Regions from separate parts of the Homo sapiens genome. Here regions 2, 3, 4 and 5 are each reported to be linked to region 1. The links are microRNA targets in miRTarBase. Many come from high-throughput screens and were not tested one by one. Region 1 holds a microRNA gene; each other region holds the end of a gene's coding sequence.

What was found. The annotated mature microRNA hsa-miR-548e-5p reads CAAAAGCAAUCGCGGUUUUUGC and lies in region 1 at 1,019-1,040, opposite strand. An mRNA with a match to its seed (bases 2 to 7 or 8) in the 3' UTR can be bound and repressed. Matches are read on the target gene's strand: a 7mer-m8 pairs with bases 2 to 8, a 7mer-A1 pairs with bases 2 to 7 and ends in A, and an 8mer does both.
Region 2: miRTarBase lists GPR180 as a target of hsa-miR-548e-5p. Seed matches in the 3' UTR shown: 7mer-m8 at 1,191-1,197, 7mer-m8 at 2,882-2,888 and 7mer-A1 at 3,324-3,330.
Region 3: miRTarBase lists HIVEP1 as a target of hsa-miR-548e-5p. Seed matches in the 3' UTR shown: 7mer-m8 at 1,064-1,070.
Region 4: the mRNA of TLR3 is a reported target of hsa-miR-548e-5p. Seed matches in the 3' UTR shown: 7mer-m8 at 2,445-2,451, 7mer-m8 at 2,471-2,477 and 7mer-m8 at 2,532-2,538.
Region 5: the mRNA of C5orf46 is a reported target of hsa-miR-548e-5p. The part of its 3' UTR that is shown has no 7-base or 8-base seed match.

The regions. Positions count from the first base shown.
Region 1 is chr10:110,985,980-110,989,979 of GRCh38, reverse strand. It overlaps MIR548E (microRNA 548e), which reads right to left and starts at 1,054; the gene lies at 967-1,054. The region is part of intron 3 of SHOC2 (SHOC2 leucine rich repeat scaffold protein); the gene reads right to left.
Region 2 is chr13:94,626,421-94,631,737 of GRCh38, forward strand. It overlaps GPR180 (G protein-coupled receptor 180), which reads left to right. Exons shown (of 9, transcript NM_180989.6): 9 at 593-5,317. The coding sequence ends at 751. Among named protein-coding and RNA genes, the nearest start is that of GPR180, 27 kb to the left of the region's middle.
Region 3 is chr6:12,163,417-12,168,733 of GRCh38, forward strand. It overlaps HIVEP1 (HIVEP zinc finger 1), which reads left to right. Exons shown (of 9, transcript NM_002114.4): 9 at 1-1,583. The coding sequence ends at 1,045. Among named protein-coding and RNA genes, the nearest start is that of EDN1, 120 kb to the right of the region's middle. RefSeq lists enhancers at 1-50, 770-1,270.
Region 4 is chr4:186,084,102-186,089,418 of GRCh38, forward strand. TLR3 (toll like receptor 3) reads left to right here. Exons shown (of 5, transcript NM_003265.3): 4 at 1-71; 5 at 544-3,972. The coding sequence ends at 772. Among named protein-coding and RNA genes, the nearest start is that of TLR3, 18 kb to the left of the region's middle.
Region 5 is chr5:147,893,560-147,898,876 of GRCh38, forward strand. It overlaps C5orf46 (chromosome 5 open reading frame 46), which reads right to left. Exons shown (of 4, transcript NM_206966.3): 3 at 3,425-3,482. The coding sequence ends at 3,434. Among named protein-coding and RNA genes, the nearest start is that of C5orf46, 10 kb to the right of the region's middle.

The sequences.
Region 1 (4,000 bases):
CATACTAACCAAACTTACAGATACATATTTTAATGTAAAAACATACAACACAAACTAAATATGTCACTGTGTGACATATTTACTATACTGAACACTATACTGAATATACACTGAATATATATGGCAAACAGAAAGCATATATACCCTGAATATATACTGAATATACTGAAGAACACTGTACTGAAATAAAACTTAAACCTATATGTTGAATTGGCCCAGAGTATACTAGGAAAATATGATCCTGAAAAATAAACACTGATAAATAAAATATAGTTCTTAAAATTTCAGAAATCTAGAAATAATACTTTGGCTGGCCAAGCAAAATGACTAAGTCACTTATCATGGGGAAAAAAGAAAATGGACTGGCCTCTTATTTTTGTACATTCAATTCCAGAAGAAGGTAGAACTACCTGTTAACAAGTTCTACTGAGATCCTCAAGGAAAGGCAGTTTGATCCAATTATTTTGTATCTATCTAAATTGTTCTTAAATTATAAAAGCTACACACATGCAAGAACTATAGGAGAATACTGCTCCCATGAACCATTTTTGAGCAAATGACTACCAACCAGATTGACTTCAGCCAACCAAGAAATGACTGAGGCAACTATGGCAACAGGACTGCTGATAAACATTAAGACTAAAACAAAAATGGGAATTAGTACAACAAGGTATGTTACCTATGCTGACAATGCAGTTAACAAAAATAAGAAGAAAAAGAGACTCCTCCAGAAACGGCAGAAAGTAGAATAAACTCATTGATTGCCTCATCTGTACCATGATTCATATTTATGGATCACTCCACCCAACAAAAGTAGAATACACATTAAACTGCACATGGAATACTTTTACCATGATGAAAGAATTCAAGTCCTATCAGGAATGTTCTTGACCACAATGGAGGTAAATTAGAAGTCAATAATATATCATGGAAAATTGTCAAGCTTTTGGGAACAAAATAACATTCTTCTATCAGGTTGGTGCAAAAGTAGTCTCAGTTTTTGCCTTTAAAAGTAATAGCAAAAACCGCGATTGCTTTTGTACCAACCTAATAAAGCCATAGATCACAGAAGAAACAAAAGGGTAAATTAGAAAAAACTTTTAAAAGGAAAATACAACATATCAGAATTTGTGGGATGCTGCTGAAGCAGTACTTAAGGGGAAATTTACAGTGCTAACTGTCTTTATGAGAATAATAGAAAGGTCTCAAATTAATGACCTCAAGCTGCCACCATAAGAAACTAGAAAAAGAACAAATAAAACTCAAAGTAAGCTGGTGAAATAAAGTTCAAAATGGAAATCAATGAAATAAAAACCAGAGAAACAATAGGGAAAATCAATAAAACTAAGAGAGGATCAACACAATTGATATACTTCTAACCAGAATGATTAAGAAAAAGAGAAAACATACAAATTCTTGATATCAGGAATTAGAGAGGTGGCATTACTATAGATTCTACAGATATTAAAATAATAAGAATGTTATGAACAACTTAATGCTTTTAAATGTGATAATTGAAATAAAACAAATATATTCCTTGAAAGACCCATATGACCAAGTTTGCTGAAGAAGAAAGTGATAACCTGAATAGCCCTATATTTATTAAAGTAATTGAAATTGCTTTAAAACAAATTCCCATAAAGAAAAGTCCTGTCCTGGATGGCTTCACTGGTGAATTTTATCAAATATTAAAGGAAGAAATAATGCAATTTCATACAAACTATTCCAAAAATTGAACATACGTAGCCAGCATTACCCTGAAACCAAAAACCAGGTAAAGATAGGTTGTATAACATTACATGTGAATTTATTATTTATTCAAAACAAATACATCTAATATTTAAAACTACCACCAGAATGTAACTTTTTAATTTATTTCTTCTTGGTAAGCAATTTTGGTCTTATTATCCGGGTTTTTATCAAGTTCAGGGAAACATTATAAAATTATATTTTATAACTATCACCACTATTTGGCCTTCTGGAACGTCTAGTCCTATCTGCCATGACTTTTTAACTTTTCACTTCTTTTGTATACATTTCTTTTTGATCTAGATTCTAGGGGACTTTTAATTTATCCTAGAGATCATCACTTTGGTCTCTGGCTGTGTTCATTTGGTTATATGGAATTTTCCATTAAATTTGATTTGGCAAACATATCTCTAAGAATTGTATTTTATTCTTTGTTCCCTTTTTGTATCAGCCTCATCATGTTTTAAACATGCAGTTTAAATATCCTATGTTTTTTTTCTCCTAAGGTCACATCTCCTTGTTCATCTTGGCCATTTCAATAGATTTTAAAGAGAAAAAAAAGCATGAAATAATTGTGCTTGGTCCTTATTATCTTGAACCAGAAATCTGATTCTCTTATTTTATACAGGACATTTAGTAGAATATTTATTTTGGATATTAATAGAATAATTCATTATGTGTTGGAGACAATCTTGCCTTTCAGAGGGACATCTAAACCATAAACCAGTTAACTAGAATATGTAATCTCTTTCCACTACAAATAGTAATACGATAGTGTCATGGGCCAAAAATCAGGGAAACATAGATTCTAACGGCTATTTATTACATCCATGTCTCAGCTTGCTTTTCTGTAAATAATTGTCCTGTATAACCTAAGACAATCTACTCAACCCTGCTAAGAAATTCCCTAACAACTGCTTTGTTTCAAGTAATGGTAGGTAATTCAAATAAATTCTCCCAATAAAAAAATAAATAAATAAAAACATCTTCCAAAACCAAAATCAGAGAGTTAACAACGTAATGACTAAGCACCAGAACAGAAACAAGCTGGGAACCCAGATACAAGCAAAACAATGGAGATAATTCTGTCCTAAGAACACAGCCCTAACTGGAAGATGCAGCTAAAAGGCTAAGTTATTTTTCCAGCAAGAGTCAAAATCTAGGGCCTGCCAAGGGTGGGGACTCTAGTCATCAACCTCAACTGGGACCCTCTAGAGCTGCACCCTACCAGTAAGGGTGAACTGGAAATAAAATAGTCATCCAGTTAGCCTGCAGCAAAACTTTTAATCACTTGGGGGACCACACACATCTCAAGCCTTGAACACGAATTGATTGAAGTGATCCCCTCTCTACTAGGTACCCAACAGAGGCAGACAAAAACTCTTCTGGAGAAAGATAACATCATCACAGGCCTCAAATGATTTAGTAATCATGCCTCTAAAATATTCATGACTGGACCAAGCACGGTGGCTAAGGCCTGTAATCCCAGCAATTTGGGAGGCAGAGGCAGGCAGATCACCTGAGGTCAGGAGTTCAAGACCAGCCTGGCCAACATAGTGAAACCTCATCTCTATTAAAAATAGAAAAAAATTAGCCAGGCGTGGTGGTGGACGCCTGTAGTCCCAGCTACTCAGGAGGCTGAAGCAGGAGAATCGCATGAACCCAGGAGGCGGAGGCTGCAGTGAGCAAAGATCACGCCACTGCACTCCAGCCTGAGAGGCAGAGTGAAACTCTGTCTCAAAAAAAATAAAAATTAAAAAATTAAAATACTAAATATTCATGACTGAAATTATGTAAATTAAGTAGAGATGTAATTTTTCTAAATAAACATTATAGTATCCTTATACCACATTAATAACTAAAAAGGCATCAGAATTTTTAAAATTCACTTTACTGGTATAAATTTATGGGCAATCGGAAAAATAAGACTACATAAACACAAAACATATCACAGCTCAATTCAATTTTTTGCAATTTGGCTAAGTCTATAAAACATATTTTGAACTTCAAGTCATCTCCTTGCTTATCCCCTTAGTATTACAGATAAACAAACTTTAAAGTATATTGGCCATGTTTAAAAAACTAAATAGCAATGGTTTTATTTTTCAGTATGGAATACTTTAGCAAAGAAAGGACCACACCCAGTATAATAACATGCAACTCAGAAATAAGCAGAAATAGAAAAAGCCACCCATTTTGCAATTCAAACTATGACAGAATATATATACATGTAACTCAATATTCTCTCTCT
Region 2 (5,317 bases), not on the chromosome of region 1:
CATGCTCAAGTATGATGCATTTTGATTGTGTTGATACCTACCTTCTTAGGTGAATGGCTCCATCATTTCAAAATAGAGGTCTGCCAGGAGCCCTTTACAAGCAATGCAGTATGTGCCTGAATGCACAAATGTTTATTGAGCCTGAGGTGTTTACAAAGGGTGAATAGATAGGACAGTAGTCTACAAAAATAGAGAAGCAACTTGAGAATTTTTGAAAGGGCTTTTAGAGTACTCTTTAAAGTTCAGGTAGGAGCGTGCTTTATTCCTGTTCCTAAATTAGCTAGGAACCTGATTTTTCTTATTTACTGAAACTTGTCTGTAGTGCATACCCTTAGGAGAGAATGGTTTAGCAAGTTATTCTTTTGTGCCTTACTTTGTCATCTACAAAATAACTGTTAAAGGGATTTTTATCCTTAAACAATTAGAGTTCTGAGCATTAGTCAGAAAATTTTTTTGATAAAATGTACCTATGGTAAAGATGAAAGATAGAGTATTGTATTTATATAAAAAGCATATATAGATTCATAATAAATTGAATATTATTTCTCTATTTCTGCATGTAGTAAAAGCATTCCTTTCCTTTTCTTTTCAGGTTATTACAATAGGTGTTATCCTTTGCCAGTCTGTTTCCATGGTTATTCTCTACAGACTCTTTCTGTCTCACAGTCTATACTGGGAAGTTTCTTCACTTTCTTCAGTAACACTACCACTGACCATATCATCTGGACACAAAAGTCGCCCTCATTTCTGATACTTGATTTTTGTTGAGAGGAAAAGTGAATTGGTTAAAAGAGTGCAATAAGGATCCAAATACAGTGACTTTTTTTTCATACATTTAGTATGAAAACTTGAACAGCGAAAGCAGAGCATGTTATTTATATAACTGCATTTAAGCAGTACCAAGACTGAAAAAAAAGGTAATAAATGAAATGTTTTGAAATATACTTAAACAACAAACTTTGAAGAAAGTGTTGTTATAAAATTATTGAAGCGATTTCTATGTGGAAATAAATGTGAAAAATAACTATGATATTTTGGTAAAATATTCACCACTTATAATGCCTCATCTTAATAGCTAACTCAGGTTTAATAGTCTTATAAAAAGTAATCAGTTAAATGATTACTTGCTTATAAATATCTAAACTAGTCCAGTTATGAAATCAGTGTAATACATTGATTTTTAAAACTGCTGCTTTTTATGCTTTAAGGAAAATGTATTTCATATTTGAGTTTAAAGGAATTGAAATTACTTCAGGAAATGAATATAAAATAGGTTCACAGTTAAATGAATAAGCTTTTGTTTATTTGTGGGTGGAGTTATTCTCCAATTTTTTCTGCCATTTTTGGCTCTAGTTCAGGTTTTAGCTTGATTAGCAAAGGTTTTTGACAAACAGTTTATGAAAAAATAAAACTTAAATACATTACACGGGTTGTAAGGACAAAGGATTTTAAAATCTGAGCACTTAGGTGAAGGGACAAGCAGGTTTATGTGTTTAAACAGAAAGAAGGGAAAAGGTACTATGTGATATGGTACTGAAATTTTGATCCCAATAGAATTCATTTCTCTTACGTTGAATCCCCAATCATAATTAAGCCGTATACACAGATTAAATTAACAGAAGCATTTCACATAAATGTTGGTTTCAGTCATCAACTACCCATGAATTCCTGCCCAAGGATACTTAATCAGGATTAAATTTTCTATGAATAATTGAAAAACAAAACACTCACTGGATTTGTTATAATCCGTGTTGGCACTGGATTCTAAGTAGTTGCCATCTTGAATCCTTTGTAATAAAGCCATACTTTTGTGTGTGTGTGTGATGCCCCAGTATTGAGTATGCTAGCTAAAAAATATCAAGTGCCTGATTAAAGAATTGCTAAATGGTTGTCAATACTCGCTGTATAAAATGAGTATTCCCATTAATAGTCACTGATTGGAAATTATTCTGTTGCTGTTTGTCAAGCTGTTCAGGCCTTTTCCTTTTTACTTCTGGCTTATTTTAAAAATATTTTTTATCTATTTACTGTGTGTTTAAGCAAGCAACAGTGCACTGATCTGGTAGTTAAATTTTTTAATTAAATAGTTAAAATAATGTAGTGCAACTTAAAAATATCTATGGCTTTGTTTTTGTTTTTCTTTTGTACCTAGTCTCATTGGAAATGACTAGTATTCTGCCTCATTTTCAGGGCAGAATATGTGTTTGTGACCCAAAATGACAAAGTTACCAAGTTCAACCTGCTCATTAAATCATCTCTCTATTAGTTCTTTGTAAATCACTTAGTACATTAGAGCTACAGGTTAAGACTAGAAAGTCTGAGTTATGTTTTAGGTATACATGATCGTCTGAGTGGTCATAACCTTTTCTTTTATCATGTCTCGCTAATAACCCCAGCTATTGTCTGTTGTGTTCAGCTGAGATGCAAAAAAGAAATTAAGCAAAAAAGAAAAAGATGAAGACTTTTCATGAATTTTGTGAACTTGCCAAAAGGGGAAGGGAAAAATCTTTGTGTTACTTCACTCAAAGAACATAAGTAACTGCAATTAACATATATGAAATTTATTACTCTGCTTGCATTTATGAAACTAACCAGTTTTTTAAACTTTAATTCTTAAATTTATGGTTGGAAATGCTGATAATTTATTTTGTTATTTAAGAGCTGTTGTTAAGTGGAGGAAAGTAGTTGTTAATAAATGTATAAAACTGTTCTTGACTAGTAATCAGGGACAAAATTTATAGTTCATAAGTCATGACACAGTATTCGCTCTTTTTCTGAATGTTTACATAGAGATTCATCACTGCAGATTACAGAAAGTTAAGTGTATACTACAAACTCTAATTAAAGATAAAAATCTTTTCTACTTTTCTTTGTCAGATAATGCTTTTTTATGTGTTTTTACATTTTTTGAAAGAAGATAAATGGTTCATCCAGAGCTTTATTAAGAAGCATTTCTTTTCTTCCCTTAAAAAATAGATGCTTATTTTTATTGACATGTGTATAATAAGATGGGTGCCTACTGTGATGCATTTTACCAGGCATTTTACCTTCATTATTACTCATCTCTATTGTGATAACCAGGCTCCCATTTAACTGAGTATAAGAGAGAATAAATGATTTCTCTAAGGTCATCAAACTATTTAGTTTTTCCACTTTACCTTCATGATTTAAGGAACATGTATTAGCTGTGTTTTAGTGAGAATGAATTGCTATCCATCATAATTTTTGCTGTTGATTTGAACATTAAAACTGGAATTGTGCTAAAATCAGAACATGCGCTTGAATATCTGTAAGACCTCAGCACACTTCAGTATTTGAACCTGGCTTTTAACCAGACAGTATTACTAGCAGGAGAGTTAATCTAGGCAGAAGAGCTTGCTTTAGGGTAATTATTTATTATCTCCAGTAAAGTCACATCTGATGAACATAGGAGATACACAAATCTGAGATCATCTCTAAAATAATGAGACTAGAACCTATCTATCAACATGAACATGGGCTCCTTCAGCATGTTTCTTCTAGGAGACTGCACGTTCTTTGGAATTTGGAAATTTGGAATTATCTGTGAAACATTTTCTTAAATAGCTTCTGTGGTATCAAATCATTGAGGTTGTTTTTTGTTTGTTTTGAGAATTGATATGATTGTTAGAAGTAGCCAGATACGAAGAGGTAATACTGTTTTTTATTCCAACATGTATTTGTGAATTGAGACTAAAATAATGAGATTGGTTTTCCTCTGTGATCTGAAAGTAGTGTGGTAGAAGCACCGTAGCTTGATTTCTTGCAATAGCTCTCTAAGTAATATTACCATGTCCACACTTGGGCAGCCTTCTGCACAGCTCCAGGGGCATCATATGTGTTGTGCTGTAGGAGTGCCATGAAGCCTGGAGGTGAGGAAAGAAGTGATCCTGCCCACTAGGGCCATTCTCCACAGTGTAGCCAAAACAATCTCTTAAAAATGGAAATCATCTGGATGATGAGCATACAGAAATTCTTTGTGCTAATCTTGTAATTTTTTTGTAAGTTTGAAATTATTTCAAAAAGTTTAAAAATCATATAAATCAGATCAAACTACTACTTCCCTGACAAAAACCCTCCATGTGCCTCTCATTGCACTTAGGAAAAGAAGTCCTCACTCATTACTATGTTCTGCAAGGCCCATATGATCTGGTTATCTCTTAATTTGTACCACTCTCTCACACACATATCCCAGCCTCATTGTCCTTCATCAAAAAAAGATCTAGCTTATATCACACCCTCAGATACTTGGCACTAGCCATCTTCTCTGCCTGGGACATTCTCTTCCAAATCTTAGCATGGTTGGAAGGCTGAATCCTCATCCTTCAGGTTCTCAGCTGAGATGTCTTTTAGAGAACTCACCATCTGTGGTGGATTTATATGGTGCAGTTTAGTCAACCTGGAGATAGGTTCTGCAGAATTCTCTTCCATGCATAATTTCAGGACAATGTAGGCCATAAGAAATGTTTGATACAAGATATAGAAGGCAGAAGTAAAGTAGCAGCCAGATCTGCATTCTTTTTGTAAGAGGAAGGGCCAGACAAGGCACAAGGCACAAGGCACTGTTGCAGCTTATCCACATTATTGCTTATCTGTTGGCTTCTCTTGGCCTGTGGGACAACAGCCAGGCCCACAGGAACACCAGTTCCTGCCGGAATGGCTCCTTCAGCTTCTCTGGCTCCTGGGCCAGGTGTGCGTTTTACTCTGACAAAGGGTGCCAGCTTCTGCTGGACAACTCCATCATTCACACTGGAGGATTAGAGGCAGGGAGAGACCTGTATGGCTTCCAGTCCATCCTCACAAGTTCCACTCAGTTCCCACAGGTTCTACTCATCCTAGCAAGTTCCTTGCTTCCCCCATTTCCCATGTCTTCCCTTTCCAACTGCCAGACACAAAAGAAACCGCCTCCTATAATCCCTATAATAAGCCCCTTATTTTGAATATTAAGATATGTGTATGTGTATTAGATCCTAGTGGTTCTTTTCTGATCAGACCCTGATTAACCATACCATCCTACCTAATGCTATTCCCCCATCCTAGTTCTATCATATTATCCCTTTTTTTGTTTGTTGTACTTAGCTGGTTTATCTTTGTCATCTCTCAAATTAGAATATAAATTTTAAGTGAGTTTGTCTCTATTGTTCATTGCTGTATGCCTAATACTAGGACACTCCCTGGTGCATACTAGATGCTCAAAAATATTTTTGAGTGAATGAAGGCAATGCTGAAAAAGTTCCAAATCTGTACTTAACAGTGTAGTATTAATTATGTAATAGAAGTACCCGTAGTGACTTCAATA
Region 3 (5,317 bases), not on the chromosome of region 1:
AGGCTTGCCTTCTCCCCACACTCATTTGTTTAGCCACCTTCCTTTGCATTCCCAGCAGCAATCGAGGACACCTTATAATATGGTTCCAGTTGGGGGGATCCATGTGGTACCTGCTGGCCTCACATACTCCACGTTTGTGCCCCTTCAGGCTGGACCAGTGCAGCTCACGATCCCTGCTGTCAGTGTCGTTCACAGAACTTTGGGTACTCATAGGAATACGGTCACAGAAGTGTCTGGCACTACAAACCCTGCTGGAGTGGCTGAATTAAGCAGTGTTGTGCCATGTATTCCTATCGGCCAAATCCGCGTGCCAGGCCTTCAGAACCTAAGTACCCCAGGCTTGCAGTCACTCCCCTCGTTAAGCATGGAAACCGTCAATATTGTAGGCCTAGCCAATACAAATATGGCCCCACAAGTCCATCCACCAGGACTGGCTCTGAATGCTGTCGGACTGCAGGTTCTGACTGCAAACCCTTCATCACAAAGCAGCCCCGCCCCTCAGGCACACATTCCAGGTCTCCAGATCTTGAACATAGCATTGCCCACCTTAATCCCCTCAGTCAGTCAAGTAGCCGTTGATGCACAGGGAGCTCCAGAAATGCCAGCTTCCCAAAGCAAAGCATGCGAGACACAACCCAAGCAGACTTCTGTAGCCAGCGCAAACCAGGTCAGCAGGACCGAGTCTCCTCAGGGGTTACCTACAGTCCAGCGGGAAAATGCAAAAAAAGTTCTGAATCCACCTGCCCCTGCAGGTGACCATGCAAGGCTTGATGGCCTGAGTAAAATGGACACAGAGAAGGCTGCCTCGGCAAATCACGTGAAGCCCAAGCCTGAACTCACTTCCATACAGGGCCAACCAGCGTCCACGTCACAACCTCTGCTGAAGGCACATTCTGAAGTTTTTACAAAGCCCTCAGGCCAGCAGACTCTCTCTCCAGACAGACAGGTTCCCAGGCCCACAGCACTACCGCGGAGGCAGCCCACTGTGCACTTCAGCGACGTGAGCAGCGATGATGACGAGGACAGGCTTGTGATAGCAACCTGATGGATTTTATTTTTTATTTGCTTTTTTTTTATATAACACTTAAAGGTTTCTTTGAAAACCCTCCTTTCCTTAAAGCACATTTTTCTGACATAAACTCATGACTAATCTTTGTGCAATCATGAACTTTTGACCAATAATTGTTGTTTTGTGTCAGCTCCAGCCATTTTTGTACATGTTGTATAGACAATTGTGCCTTTTAGGAGCTTTATGTTTAGAAACTGTACAGATTGTTGAATATCTATATACATAAAAATATATTATATATGTATATGAAAACCAGGTAGTTATTTGTGTTTAGTAAGGAAAACCTGTCAAATAAATCAAATGATTAAATTATATGTTCCACTGTTGAATATAAATTTTATGGCTATGGGGCAGAGTTTCTGTGTATAAATTAGTATGTAAACTCCATATTTATTGTATTCATATTAGTCTTTGAAAATGGGTCTGTCCTCCTTGTGTAAGACAGTAACTTTACACTTCAGACAGATTTTCTGTGTTATGAAATGTTTCAGTAAAATATTGTTTACTGACTTTACCATTGCTTCAGTTGTGCCTTCTTTATATCATCCAGTGATCAGTGATCTGCATTTGGAAAATAGCCCTGGGTTCCATTCTTTCCACATTCCCCTCAACCCTTCATTTTTTTTATAAACAGAGACTTTACTCGCCTTTCTACCATGTGAAACTGTAACTGAAATCCATACAACTGATTGACCTATTTTTCTTATTTGTGAGAAGTCATTTCATAGTTATTATTAGAAGACTAAATATATAAGAATACTTTCTGTATATACATAAAGCATATAGCCTAAAATGGGCAACGTTCCTAAATGAGGGTATGGAAATTTCTGGGAAACATGAGTTAAACCCCATTGTCCTTAGAATTTGGCTCAGATGAGACCCGTATAACCTCATTTCCAGGCTCCAACACCAGATCCATTCGTGGGCTATGGGCTCTTCTTTCCCTTGATGCTGTTAAACTCACAGAGCTCTGTCCAGCACTGAACTACAGAGTGTCCAAGATTACCGAAGAGCCAAATTCAGACTTCTAAATTACTTAAGTGACTCTCTTTAGACATTACTATTTCCTGTCCTGGAAGGTTGAACCATCCTTATTCAGGAAAATATGGCGGCATGGGGAGCCCCCAATTACCAGTGCAGTGATTTGCATTATTAATGATTATAGATGCTAGGTTTATGAGAAAAGTATTTTAATGTTGGAATTTAAATACTTAGCACATCATTAAGTCAATGTATTCACATTTTTAAAGGCTTGCTTAACAAAGATTGCAGAGACATGAAATAAGTAAGACAACAGCATGGTTTGCGAGGTGAGAGGTAGGGGACAGCCTATCTACTAAGGGGTTTGGAGACCTGCTGCTAGCCAACCCAGCTTCACGTCTGTGACTTTGCAAAGACCTGGCATTTCAACTTGCGTATCCTTATCTCAATTAGGATCTCCAAGGTGTGCTGCAGTCCCAGCACGCACTGGTGGATCTGTGATGCTTTAAATGAATGCTTCAATTTACATTTACATATTTCCATAGATTAAGTAACAAAATTCTCTCAAAAACAATAAAACTACATTTTTATATTCTGAGATAGCTTTGGAAAGAATTCTGGAAATATCTGCTCTAGGGATTGCGTTGCCCTATCAATAATAGCTGTTGAAAATGAGGTCTGTTTTCTGTCCAGTTTCTCAAAATTAATGTTTTAACTGTGTCATGAACTTTTTATTGCCTAAAATTTTAAAGCAGTATAATAAGCATATTCTTAACTCCATAATTAAGTACAGATGACTTCTCTAAATTCAAAAATAATGCTTGGAGTTTTTAGCATTGAGGTTTTTTAGTTTCTATAGAATTTTCTTAATTTAAAAAATTCCTATACTTAAAGACAAGTGTTACGATGTGAGTGGATGTTCCCTTGAAATTTTCATAATGCTGTAATGTACCTTACTCTTATTTTGTACTTTTCAAGATTCTTATTTTGGGCTTTTCAAAATTCAATGCATCGTGCAAATACCTTTACTATTGGCAACTTTCAAGCTTTATTGTAGCCTTTCAAGTATTTTGCTAGTATTTGAAATATGCAGCTCTATAAAAAATATTACCAAAGTCTAAGCCATTATATTTTGAAATTACATGCACAAAATAGACAAGGGAACAATAATTTTGTGCTATTTCTCCGAAGTCGTCTTTTCCCAAGGAGCAGTGTCCACTTGATACTCCCAAATATAAACGACTTCCAAATAATGTAATTCGGAGAACTAATGGGACTACATTTGACTTTTATTCTGTTGCACTGTCGTGTGTGGAGACCCAGGCCTGTAGAGAACTAGGGTGCAATGACATAGTAAGATAATTTATTGACAAAACAGGTGAAAGTTTTAATGTGTAACAATTTCAATACCTTGTGTGAATCCACTGCAATGCCATCATCAGAAGTACTGGAAAAAACAGCTGAAGAACCACAGGTCGTTTTTCTAGTTAAAGATTATTATATCTGGCTTATGAAAATGTATTATAACATAAATCGAGGGCGTTCCAATAACTTATTTTCATTCCCTAAACTTTAAGCCAAAATGATAATTATTTCTTTCGAAATGATAATTAACCGATGGTATTGAATGTACAAATTTTGTTTCTCAGTTATATTTTTCATAATATAGACCTGATTTTCCTTTCACAGAAACAGTATAAGTAACACGTTTCTTACTAATTAATCCCTGGCCTGAATTTTAAATGATAGCAGTTAATAAGGATTATGGAAAATAATCATTATTTTTGTTGGAAGACTGTCAAGATAGTTAATAGATCTTGATTCATGCTCAGTTCAAATTATAACATCAGGGTTCTTTTTGACTTTTCTGTTTTTCATCTTACATTTTGCAGTCAACTTCAAATAATACCAGAAAGATGATTTTCATTAATTTTGTTTCAAAACCATCTATAAATTCTAAATACAGCATGTATATCACCTTAAGAATCTTCTCTCAAAGTGACTTCCCATGACTTAAAATTCTAAATTTCCTACTTAATATTCAAAATATGTATTTTGTAATATATATTTGTATATATATAATATATGTATATATTACATGCATGTTATATATACGTTATATTACATGTATATATACATGTTATATTACATGTATATATACATGTTATATATACATATACATATATATGTTATATATACATATATACATATATGTGTATAATATATATACATATATACATATATGCATAATATATATACATATATACATGTGTATATGTGCGTGTATAATATATACATGTACATGTGTAGATGTGCGTATATAATATATACACATGTACATGTATAGATGTGCGTATATAATATGTACACATGTACATGTATAGATGTGCGTATATAATATATACACATGTACATGTATAGATGTGCGTATATAATATATACACATGTACATGTATATCTGCGTATATTATATATACATGTACATGTATATATGTATATATTATATATACATGTACATGTATATATGTATATATTATATATACATGTACATGTATATATGTATATATTATATATACATATACATATGTGTATATATACATATATATGTGTATATATACATATATACACATACACGTATATATGTATATTATATATACATATATACGTGTATATCTATATTATATATACAGATATACGTGTATATCTATATTATATATAGATATACGTGTATATATACATATATACATATATACATATATTATATACATATATATTATATATACAGATATACGTGTATATATACATATATACATATATTATATACATATATACATATATACATATATTATATACATATATATTATATAATTATATATACATGTATATGTATATATTATATACATATACATGTATATATGTATATATATAATATTTTATATAATATATTTTAGTGGCAATAACTCCCTGCTCTCATTACCAAGTGGGGAAAAAAAGGAGAAAAGGTTTAAAGCAAGAATAGCAAAATGTTTTTCTATACAAATTATATACAGACTGTTCACAACTTACTATGGTTCAATTTAATGATTTTTTCAACTTTACACTGATGTGAAAATGATAAGCATTCAGTAGAAACCATACTCTGAATTTTGATATCTTTCTGTGCTAGCAATATAGGGTTTGATCTCTTATGATGCTGGGCAGCAGCAGGAGCCAAAGCTCCCAGCCAGCTACGTGATTGTAACCACAAACACACTACAGTGCACTGTA
Region 4 (5,317 bases), not on the chromosome of region 1:
AGCATCAAAAGAAGCAGAAAAATTATTTTTGTTATAACACACCATCTATTAAAAGACCCATTATGCAAAAGGTAGGTAAACATTGTGAAATTTTAAGTGTGTACTTGCTTTTCAATTAAATTTCTTTTTTTTTTTTTGAGATGGAGTCCTGCTCTGTTGCCCAGGCTGGAGTGCAGTGGTGTGATCTCAGCTTACTGCAGCCTCCACCTCCTGGGTTCAAGTAATTCTCCTGCCTCAGCCTCTCAAGTAGTTGGGATTACAGGCACGCGCCACCAAGCCTGGCTAATTTTTGTATTTTTATTAGAGATGGGGTTTCACCGTGTTGGCCAGGCTTATCTTGAACTCCTGGCCTCAGGTGAGCTTCAATTAAACTTTTAAATATTACCAATATTACTCACAACTCAAAGAATTTTTAAAATAAAATTAAGAAAAAAAAAACCTGAGTTTCAGTAACAGTTTAAACTCTACAGAGTATTTTTAAATAGTATTGCTTCTGGCTGTTAAAAACCGTATATTAATTCTTCAATACATTTTTTTACTTAGATTCAAGGTACATCATGCAGTTCAACAAGCTATTGAACAAAATCTGGATTCCATTATATTGGTTTTCCTTGAGGAGATTCCAGATTATAAACTGAACCATGCACTCTGTTTGCGAAGAGGAATGTTTAAATCTCACTGCATCTTGAACTGGCCAGTTCAGAAAGAACGGATAGGTGCCTTTCGTCATAAATTGCAAGTAGCACTTGGATCCAAAAACTCTGTACATTAAATTTATTTAAATATTCAATTAGCAAAGGAGAAACTTTCTCAATTTAAAAAGTTCTATGGCAAATTTAAGTTTTCCATAAAGGTGTTATAATTTGTTTATTCATATTTGTAAATGATTATATTCTATCACAATTACATCTCTTCTAGGAAAATGTGTCTCCTTATTTCAGGCCTATTTTTGACAATTGACTTAATTTTACCCAAAATAAAACATATAAGCACGTAAGAACATTGTCTACTGATTAATATACAATCAGCCACTGAGCCTATGACAGCTTAAGGAGTTTGAAAACATTCCTCATTTTAAGAAAAGTTAGAGGTATATGAGGGTTTGTGATGATCTTTTTGTATTTTGGATGCACTTAGAATGAAAGATAATTGTTTCAATGGGTATAATGCTATTTCCTTTGTAAAAGAGTAAAATATATACCCATATTTTTAACAAGTTTAATTACAGTATTTTTTCAATGGAAAAACTTTGTATTTTAGTAAGTACTTGTCTCAGTGTTGACTTTGTTAAATGTTAAATATTTTTTAATATACATACCCAAGGGCAGAAAACATTTGCAATTCATTTTTATTAGTTAATGAGATGATTATTTGAATGAATATTGACTTGTATTTTCCTGAGATTATGAGTTTCTGCTGTGGGAGGGTGGAAACAATTCTCTTACTAAAAGTATTGTAGGCAGGCTTGCTTTCTGAAGGCTAATCACTATTTGGCTTTGTGGAAACAGAACTTTCCTCCCATGGTCACAGACTCAGGAGATGGCGTTGGCAAAATCACTTGGTCCCACTGGGATTCTTTGACTCCTGATCTTGAAAATTATGATAATAAATGCATCTTAGATATTCCTATGTAATTAGTGATGATGATCGCTGTATAATATATTCAAAGGAATGTATTATTTTACCATAAAATAATGTGCTACGCATAAGGTAGTCCTTATCTAGAAAGACTATTTTTATTTTTGTTTTTTTGTTTGTTTGTTTTTTATTTGTTTGTTTTTGAGACAGAGTCTGGCTCTGTCGCCCAGGCTGGAGTTCAGTGGTCCAACCTCGGCCCACCGCAACCTCCACCTCTGAGTTCAAGCTATTCTCCTGCCTCAGCCACCCGAGTAGCTGGGATTACAGGCACATGCCACCATGCCTGGCTAATTTTTGTATTTTTAGTAGAGATGGGGTTTCACCATGTTGGCCAGGCTGGTCTTGAACTCCTGACCTCAAGTGATCCTCTCGCCTTGGCCTCCCAAAGTGCTAGGATTACAGGTGTGAGCCACCGCGCCCCGCCTTTTTATTTTGTTTTACAATACAACAAAAAATTTTTAGTTTTACAATAAAAGAGAATCTGATTATTGGAAATAGACCTGAATAGCTTTTTGAAATATTTATAGTTCTAGTATTTAAAGAGAAACCTGAAATTATAAAGCTGAGTTAATTTCTATACCTGAAATGTTCATTTGTCTGCTGAATTCAGGGAGCATTTGAGATGTCACATTTTGGAACTTTGATTTAAATAGTTCAGTATTCCCAAGGCTGAGTTCCATGACCCTGGAATGAGAAATATCCACTGTACCTCTGGTTCTGAAGAGTCTATAGTCGGCCAACACTGTGAATGTGTGGAGGACTAATTGTCACTTTCATGTTATTTGCCACCCTGACAGCTGAGACACTGCTTTTCAGCATTTTAGTTAAGATTTGCTTTTTAACTGTGCAATAATCATTTTATTTTGGCATTATAAAATAAAAATCACAACTTCTGCTTTTCTTATATGCTTTGTGTGTTATCACACAAATATTCTCAAATATTCATAAGATATTTTAAATAAATCATTGTGAATTAGTCAATATATCAAGTTGCTTAATATGTCATATATCAATGCTATTTAATATATAATATCTATATTTAATATATTGATATGTTACTGGTGGAGAGTGTCCAGGTTCTTGGTGCTTTGAACAAGGAATTGGACAAAATGCACAAAGAATGAGGCGACAAAAGCAGAGGTTTATTGAAAACGAAAGCACACCCCGCAGGGTGGGAGCGGCCCGAGCAAGCAGCTCAAAAGCCGGGTTACAGGATTTTCTGGGGTTTAAATACTCTCTAGAGGTTTCCATTGGTTACTTGGTTTATGCCCTATGTAAATGAAGAGGCTAAAGTGAAATTACAAAGTTATTTACTTGTTGTGCACCCTACGCAAATGAATAGCTGTCACAGCTGAGGTAGAGTTACAGTGATTTACTTGGTGGTAGAATGTTGGGATTTTTCCATTTGATTGAGTTCTAGGAAGCCTTTAGTTTCCCTGCCTGCAGACCCCATTCTCCTGCCTCAGATATATCAATGACATATTCAATACATCATTAAGTTGCTTAATATTTAAGAGGTTAAGATGCACAGGTAATGACCTCTAAATGAATGCCAATAAAAATAGTAAAAGGTGTAAACTCTGACTCCTATCTGACCTAGGTAGGAAGTAACATCCAGAACTTCTGCAGGCTGTCCTGTGTAATTGTTCTCCGGAGGAACCCTTGTCCCTGGGGTTTGAGAGAAGGGGATCGAGGAAAAGGATGTTTGTCTGAGCTCTTGTTTGATTTGCCCAAGTGACTTGACTTGTTTGAATCCTCTCAGGGTGCCATCATGTAATCTGTCCACTCCAACTTCTTCCTGTTTTTCACATTGCAAAACAAAACCCAACTGAATCGACACTGAGTTTAAAATAAATCTTGGTATTTAGGTTGTACCTAAAAATGATAACTTTTAGACTGTAATCAGAGGTAGATGCTATCAATTTGTTAGTGAGGAGGGGAGGAGTTTTCGATGCCACTTAGTTTACAATGTCTAATTGTTCAAATATACATCTAGGTTGTAAAGGAGACTCAACGGTAAGTTATAGTGACCATTGAAAAATGTAAAGGGGCTTCAAATCAAGAACTTAGAAGGAATTTCTTGCAATCTATTGAGACACAAAGCAGATGAGTGGTTGTCTGGGCCTAGGAACAGGAATGGGGAGTGGCTGCAAATAGGTGGAAGAGACCTTTTTTGGGTGATGAAAGTGCTCTATAATTGGGTTATGGTAATAATTGTACAACTATGTAAATTTACTGAAAGTCATTGAGTTGGACACTTAAAACAGGTGAATTTTATGATATGTAAATTATATATTCACAAAGCCATTAAAAATTGTATTTTTTGAGCAGCTACAGGTGCCTAGCCCTGTGTTAACTACTATGGTGAACAGTAGGATGGGATTTAGAGGTGTGGGCAATACAAGCTGGGTGGAAAGGGATTTCCAAAGATGGACCTGGGCAGGGAGGACTCCACAGAGGAGACCCAGCCCCTTCCAAGGTGGGTGAGATTTCAATGAGTGGAGAAGAAGATGGCAGAATGAACAGCAAGAGAGAAGTTCATGAGGGAGACATGAACTTGGTGTCGGGAGATAGTGGGGTGCCGAAGGGGATGGAACCAGGCTGCAGAGAGCATGGCAGAGATGTTTAGATGCAATGTTTTGAAATTGTGACTTTATGGGTTTAAACTGCCAAACCCAGACATCATGATGAAATTCCCTCCTGGGATCTATGCCTTAGATTTAGGTGTCAGCCAGTTAAACAGAGGAACATAGACTATAACTTCACAGTCCAAAGCCAGGCTGGCTCTCACATAACAAAAGGGGCTTTAAGCACTTTTTTCCCCTATAAACATATACATCTGTGTTAAAATAACAAAGGACAATCACTCATTAGTTACTAATTACACTAGGTGACATATTAGCCACTCTTGGCTCTTGCAACTCTCTAGCCTTGCTCCACTGTCCTGTTTATGGGAGAAAACAGTTGTGCCATGTGGCTATTTTCACAAACCATTCTTTATTCTTTGTGTGCATTGGGCAAGAGTCATCAGACTTTTCAATGGTGGAACTCTTCCACTTTTGTTTGAGGACTTCTGGGTAGACAGGGTTGGCTTATTTAGCTTCCTTTTCTCTTAGGTCAGTTCCCCAGGAAACAGGTTTTGGGATGGAGGTTTGCATGAAGGAAGTTTCAGGGGTGCTCTGATTTATAAGTGAGTGAAATAAGCTGGATCGGGAAGAGAGAGAATAATTAACTCTGATGCAATTCACAATTGCAGCTGAGTTCTTAGCCAGCCCCATGGGGAGCTCTGGAGCTGGAATGACCCTAGAGAATTGGGAGAAATCTAGGCAAAGGGGCTGGACCCCTCTCCATGCCCTCACATCAACCAGTCACAGACACAGGCAGCCCCAGGGAGGAAGTGTGACCTTAAGTAAAATGTTTTGCCAAAAGAAATTCAAGGGCAGGTGCAGTGGCTCAAACCTGTAATCCCAGCACTTTGGGAGGTGGAGGCAGGCAGATCACCTGGGGTTGGGAGTTAGAGACCAGCCTCACCAACATGGAGAAACCCCGTTCTAATAAAAATACAAAATTAGCCGGGCGTGGTGGCGTGTGCCTGTAATCCTAGCTACTTGGGAGGCTGAGGCAGGAGAATGCAGTGAGCCGAGATTGTGCCACTGCACTCCAGCCTGGGCAACAAGAG
Region 5 (5,317 bases), not on the chromosome of region 1:
GAGCCACAGTTTCGCTCTTGTTGCCCTGGCTGGAGTGCAGTGGCTTGATCTTGGTTTACCACAACCTCTGCCTCCCTGGTTCAAGCGATTCTCCTGCCTCAGCCTCATGAGTAGCTGGGATTACTGGCATGTGCCACCATGCCCGGCTAATTTTGTATTTTTAGTAGAGACAGTGTTTCTCCATGTTGGTCAGGCTGGTTTCCACCTCCCGACCTCAGGTGATCTGCCCGCTCGGCCTCCCAAAGCGCTGGGATTTGGTAGGCACCTGTAATGGCATGAGGCACTATGCCCAGCCATCACATAAATCTTATAAGCAGAAAAGAGGAATCTGACTTTAGGGAAGGCATATTTTTTTTTTTTTTGCCTGATTTCTAAAAGAAAAATTTTCCATAAGACTTCATGAAAACGTAATCAAGTGACATTGTGGCCACGGGCAATTTTGCTTATCAGGTGCACTGGAATTTCCTGTCTGACTTACTTATTCCTAGATCCCTCCCTAGGAAGTTCTGACTGAGCAAGTCTAAGCATAAAAGTCTAGTGTGTCCTATAGTACATTTTGCCTTAATCCAAAACACTTGTATAAAAATTAAGAATTCATAAAGTGACTTTCTATCCATTACCTCTTTTGATAATTTTAGTAATCTAGTGAGGTTTGTCCAAATTTGTTTTTAAGCAGGAAAGAAAATTTATACTTAAAATATCAAATGACTTAAGACACAAAAAAAGATGACTTGAATTCATATGGTTTTAAACAATGCAGGACAAATGGAGTTAAAATTTTAATTTTATTGAAAATATTAAAGCCAGTAAAAATCATGCCAATGTTGTTCAGTAGAGGCTGAGAGGTTCTCAGATGAACCAGGTATTCGGTTATTGGATATTTTTCCAAATACTGTACCTCTCTCTACTCATCATATCAGGTTGTGTGTAGAATCTCTTCTCTCAGAGTTCACCTTATTTGTAGAGCATTCATAATGCTTATCCCCTCCTCCAGATATTCCTTCTTATCTTTTCCAAGGCATTCCCAAGGCCCCTTTATGCATAACTTTATCATTTCCTTCCACAGTTATGAGATACACAGAGCTATGTGATTGCTGAGTCCATAAACTTCTCAACAGCCAGCTAGTTATTCATTTTGGTAGCATTGGCTGATTGATATAGTAGGTATGGATTAAAGAAGCATTAAAGAAATGTGTAAAAAAAAAAAAAAGGGAGGGATCGGCCGGGAATGGTGGCTCACACCTGTAATTCCAGCATTTTGGGAGGCCGAAGGGGGGTGAATCACTGTCAGGAGTTCAAGACCATCATGGCCAACATGGTGAAACCTCATTTCTACTAAAGGAAAATACAAAAATTAGCCGGGTGTGGTGATGCACACCTGTAGTCCCAGCTACTCGGGAGGCTGAGTCAGGAGAATCACTTGAACCCAGGAGGCAGAGGTTGCAGTGAGCCGAGATGGCACCACTGCACTCCAACCTGGGTGACAGAGTGAGACTCTGTCTCAAAAAAAAAAAAATCAATGTTAATAAGAGAAACATAAGATCTATCTATCCAACTACCTATCTTAATTTAGGAAATTCTGGCTGCATGCCATGTCTCATGCCTATAATCGGAACAGTTTAGGAGGCTGAGGTGGGCATCCAAGTGATCACTTAGATCACTTGAGGCCAGGAGTTCAACACCAGCCTGGGCAGCATGGTGAAACCCTGTCTCTACTAAGAATACAAAAATTAGTCTCTCCCTTAGTTGCTTCCTTCTCCCTAGTTTAATGTTTTTTATATTACAACCCTAGATTGAGCCATTCCTCCCTGCTCATCAGGGCATCTTAGGTTGGTTCATGCATCAATTCCAAGTTTTTCATGTGCAGTTAAAAAATTTATGGCATTAAGATTCCCTATGTTTTAAAAATTCATAAGGAGAAAAGTGGGGCTCAGGCAGGTAAAGTGGCCTGACCACGGTTACATAACCATTAAGTGGCTGATTTAGAAGTTGAATTTACATCTTGTCTATGTCTTCTGTTCTTTCTGCTCCTCCATGTGGCCTTGCCTATTAGACTACATCATAGACCAGACCTGTAGGATGTACTCCAAGGATTTGGGGTGTGGGTACCAAAAATTATAGGTGTGTACCAGAAGCCGGAATGAAGGCAAAGTATTAGGACACCTGCAAGAAGAGGCAGGCTGTTCTCTGAGAAGATGGGAATGAAGACATACAAACATAAGTGACTGAGTTTAAAAGCTTAATTGGCCTTAGGGTAAGAGTCAGGAGTGTCGGGGTTGGGCATGTTTTGATTTCAATGCCCAAGCCTGATTCTCATCCTTAGAAGCACATGGGAAAGGGTGGGCTAAGTTCCGGGGGAATATGATAGTAGCTTTCTGAACTTACATTAATCACACCCAGGTTATGAAATGGAGCCAATGGGGAAAAGGAGCATTTCCAGACCAGATCACAAACAGAAGTTGGGAAAGGCCATGCTTCCTGAATATGCAGATAAAGTAACTCAACTAAGCAAAGGGGTGGTGTTGTATTTCTATGAACATCTTGAGGTATGACTTAGATTACTTAGCTTAATCATTATTCTCCACTGCCTTCTCCTATACTATTCTGCTCTGTTTCCAGTAGCACTATGGCTTAGAGATACAGCACAGGCCTTGGAATCAGGCTGCTTAAATTCAAATTGTGTCTTCATCCTTTATCAATATAGCCACATTAGCAAACCTCCCTGAACCTTCATTTCCTTATTTATAAAATTTAAGAATAATAATATCTATTTTGCATAGTGATTATGAATTAAATACTACAAGCCCTTAGTCATTAATCACTTAGCTTAATGCCTAAAACAGAGTAAGAACACAGTTCATACCAGCTACTAATATTACTACTTTTCCAGATCTAACACTTTTGTTTTCGTATTTCAATATGCATTTTCAGGAGAGACCCGAGTAGGGAAAAAGCAAGTATTTCTGAGCACTCAAACTATATTGTTTGCCCATATATCTAACTGCGTGAGATAGAAAGTTTGTTATCCTTTCTCTCTGAATTAGGTTCAGCAAATTTCACTCTTCTTATGAGTAACTAACTGCATGATTACGTGGGTCCTTAGATTGCTAGTGCGTGCTAGCCCCTCATTTCACAGGCTGAACTTGTACAAAGCAAGTTCCTAGCAGATTTGTGACAGGAATCAGGTCTCCAAACTTGCCATCCTTATTCACTTCATCTCACAGCTCTACCTCCTCTCTTAAGAAAATTTTATTATTAGAAACTTGTACATGAAAAAAATATATTCATTTATTTTTTTAAAATGTACTTTTTCTGCTTGTAGGTAGACATGGGTAACCAAAATTATTAAATAAAACTGGACAGACTCTTTTTCCTTTGTCCAATACACTGTTATTTCAGTTGTAAATTTTAAGTGAAAAATCACCTGAGGATGTCACTTTGATGAATGTTTTCCTTCATTATCATCAAATTCCATAAATCCTCTTGAGAAAAAAAGAGAAAATAAGAATTACAATTGAGACTGAACAGGAGTGTTAGAATGATCACTAAGGCGCTGTATAATGTTTGAGCCACACTGTTCTTCTCTAGATTTTTCTATGTCAGAAAGAAATAAGACCTAAAATTTCTACATAGTTCATAGTGGGCAAGTAATTTATGCATAATTATCTTTTTTGCATCTGCCAACAAACCCATTAGTTAGGTATCTATTCACACATAAACTCCATAAAGTCATATATTTTGGTATATTTTTCCAGTAATATATCCCCAGCACTTAGAACAGTGCATGGCAAATAGTAGAAATTAATAAATATTTGTTGAATGCATCTTTATTATCTCTTTTTATGTGTGAGAAAACCTTTGAAGCTTAAAGATTAAACAACCTGTCCAAAGCACATGGCTGGTAAGTTACAAAGAAAATTTAAAAATTTGGCTCTCCAGAGTCATTACTAAATGCTAGAAACATTATGCCCTATGGCTTAAGGACTGGGTACCAGGGTATCTGCTGAGATCGTAAAAGATAACTAAAATATGGTTTGTGAATTGCAGTCTAGTGGAGAAAACAGACAACTCAGATACAAGTAATTTAATACAATGTGGGGATAAAAGTTGTTATGAAGATTTCTGCAAAGGATTATGAAATCCCTGAATATGAAAAACTGAAATTTCTGATGTTAAGTGTCTATGACTTTTTTACAGAGTTTGTTTTTGAATTGGGCTTTAGAAAATGATTAGACTTGCCAAGTGAACAGAGTGGGGTTTTGGCTTTGGGGCTAGGCATTTTCAGCAGAGGGAAAAATCACACGCACAGATATTGGGGGTTTATACAAACATGACCTGCTTTAAAATGAAACTCATTAGTCATTGGGGCTTCAGGTTGCAGAGGTGAGAAATGTGACTGAAAGATACATTGGCATCAGAGAAGGACATTTGACATCAGCCTAATGCATTTGCTTGAATTTTGGAGGCAATGGAAATTCATGAAAAACTTTCAAGCATGGCAGTGATATGACCAAATTTAAATTTTTTTGATATAAAGTTCTGGTAGTAGGTAGAAGATGAATTGATGAGACAGAAGGTGGAACTTATTAGAAATCCAATAAAAAGAGAGACAGAGAAAAGTGAAACTTATTAGAAATCCAATAAAAGGAACTTGGGAAAGAGATGATAAAGGACTCAACTTGACCAACTAGTCAGTGGAGCTGAGGAAGAGAAATGTATATAGGGTGCATATACATATACCCGAGGAAGGTATATAGGGTAGAATATTCAGCAATTCGATGAAGGTGATGATGAGCAGGAAGGATTTGAGAAGATCCTTAGATTTCTGGATTCTGGGTGGATGATGATGTGACTTAATGAGATATGGAGGAAGGTTTTGAGTGAGATGATGGGCTTGGGTTTAGACCAGTGGAATTTGAAATAGTGGTAGAAAAACGATGGAATTTTGTAGCAAGCAATCAGTTATTCCATCTGGAGCTCAGGAAAAAATTGCAACAGAAATGTGAATTTGAAACTCATTAGATTATAGGCAGTGTTCCCAATGTGTAAACTGCAATGTGAAGAACCAAGCACGTTTGGAATTCTGAGGAACAATGACATTTGGAGGGCAGGTGCATGAAGAAAAGTCAAATAAAAAGAATGAGAAAGAATGGCTAGTGGTAGAGAGAGAACCAGGAAAATACATCATGGAACCCAGAGGGGAAAATATTCCCTAGAATTAAGGGCTCTCAAAGGGTGAGAGGAGTTAAGAATATGTATATTTTTCAGAAAAATGATGAGCAAAATGCAGTCTAGGTAGCTCCAAGCTGATCCAAAA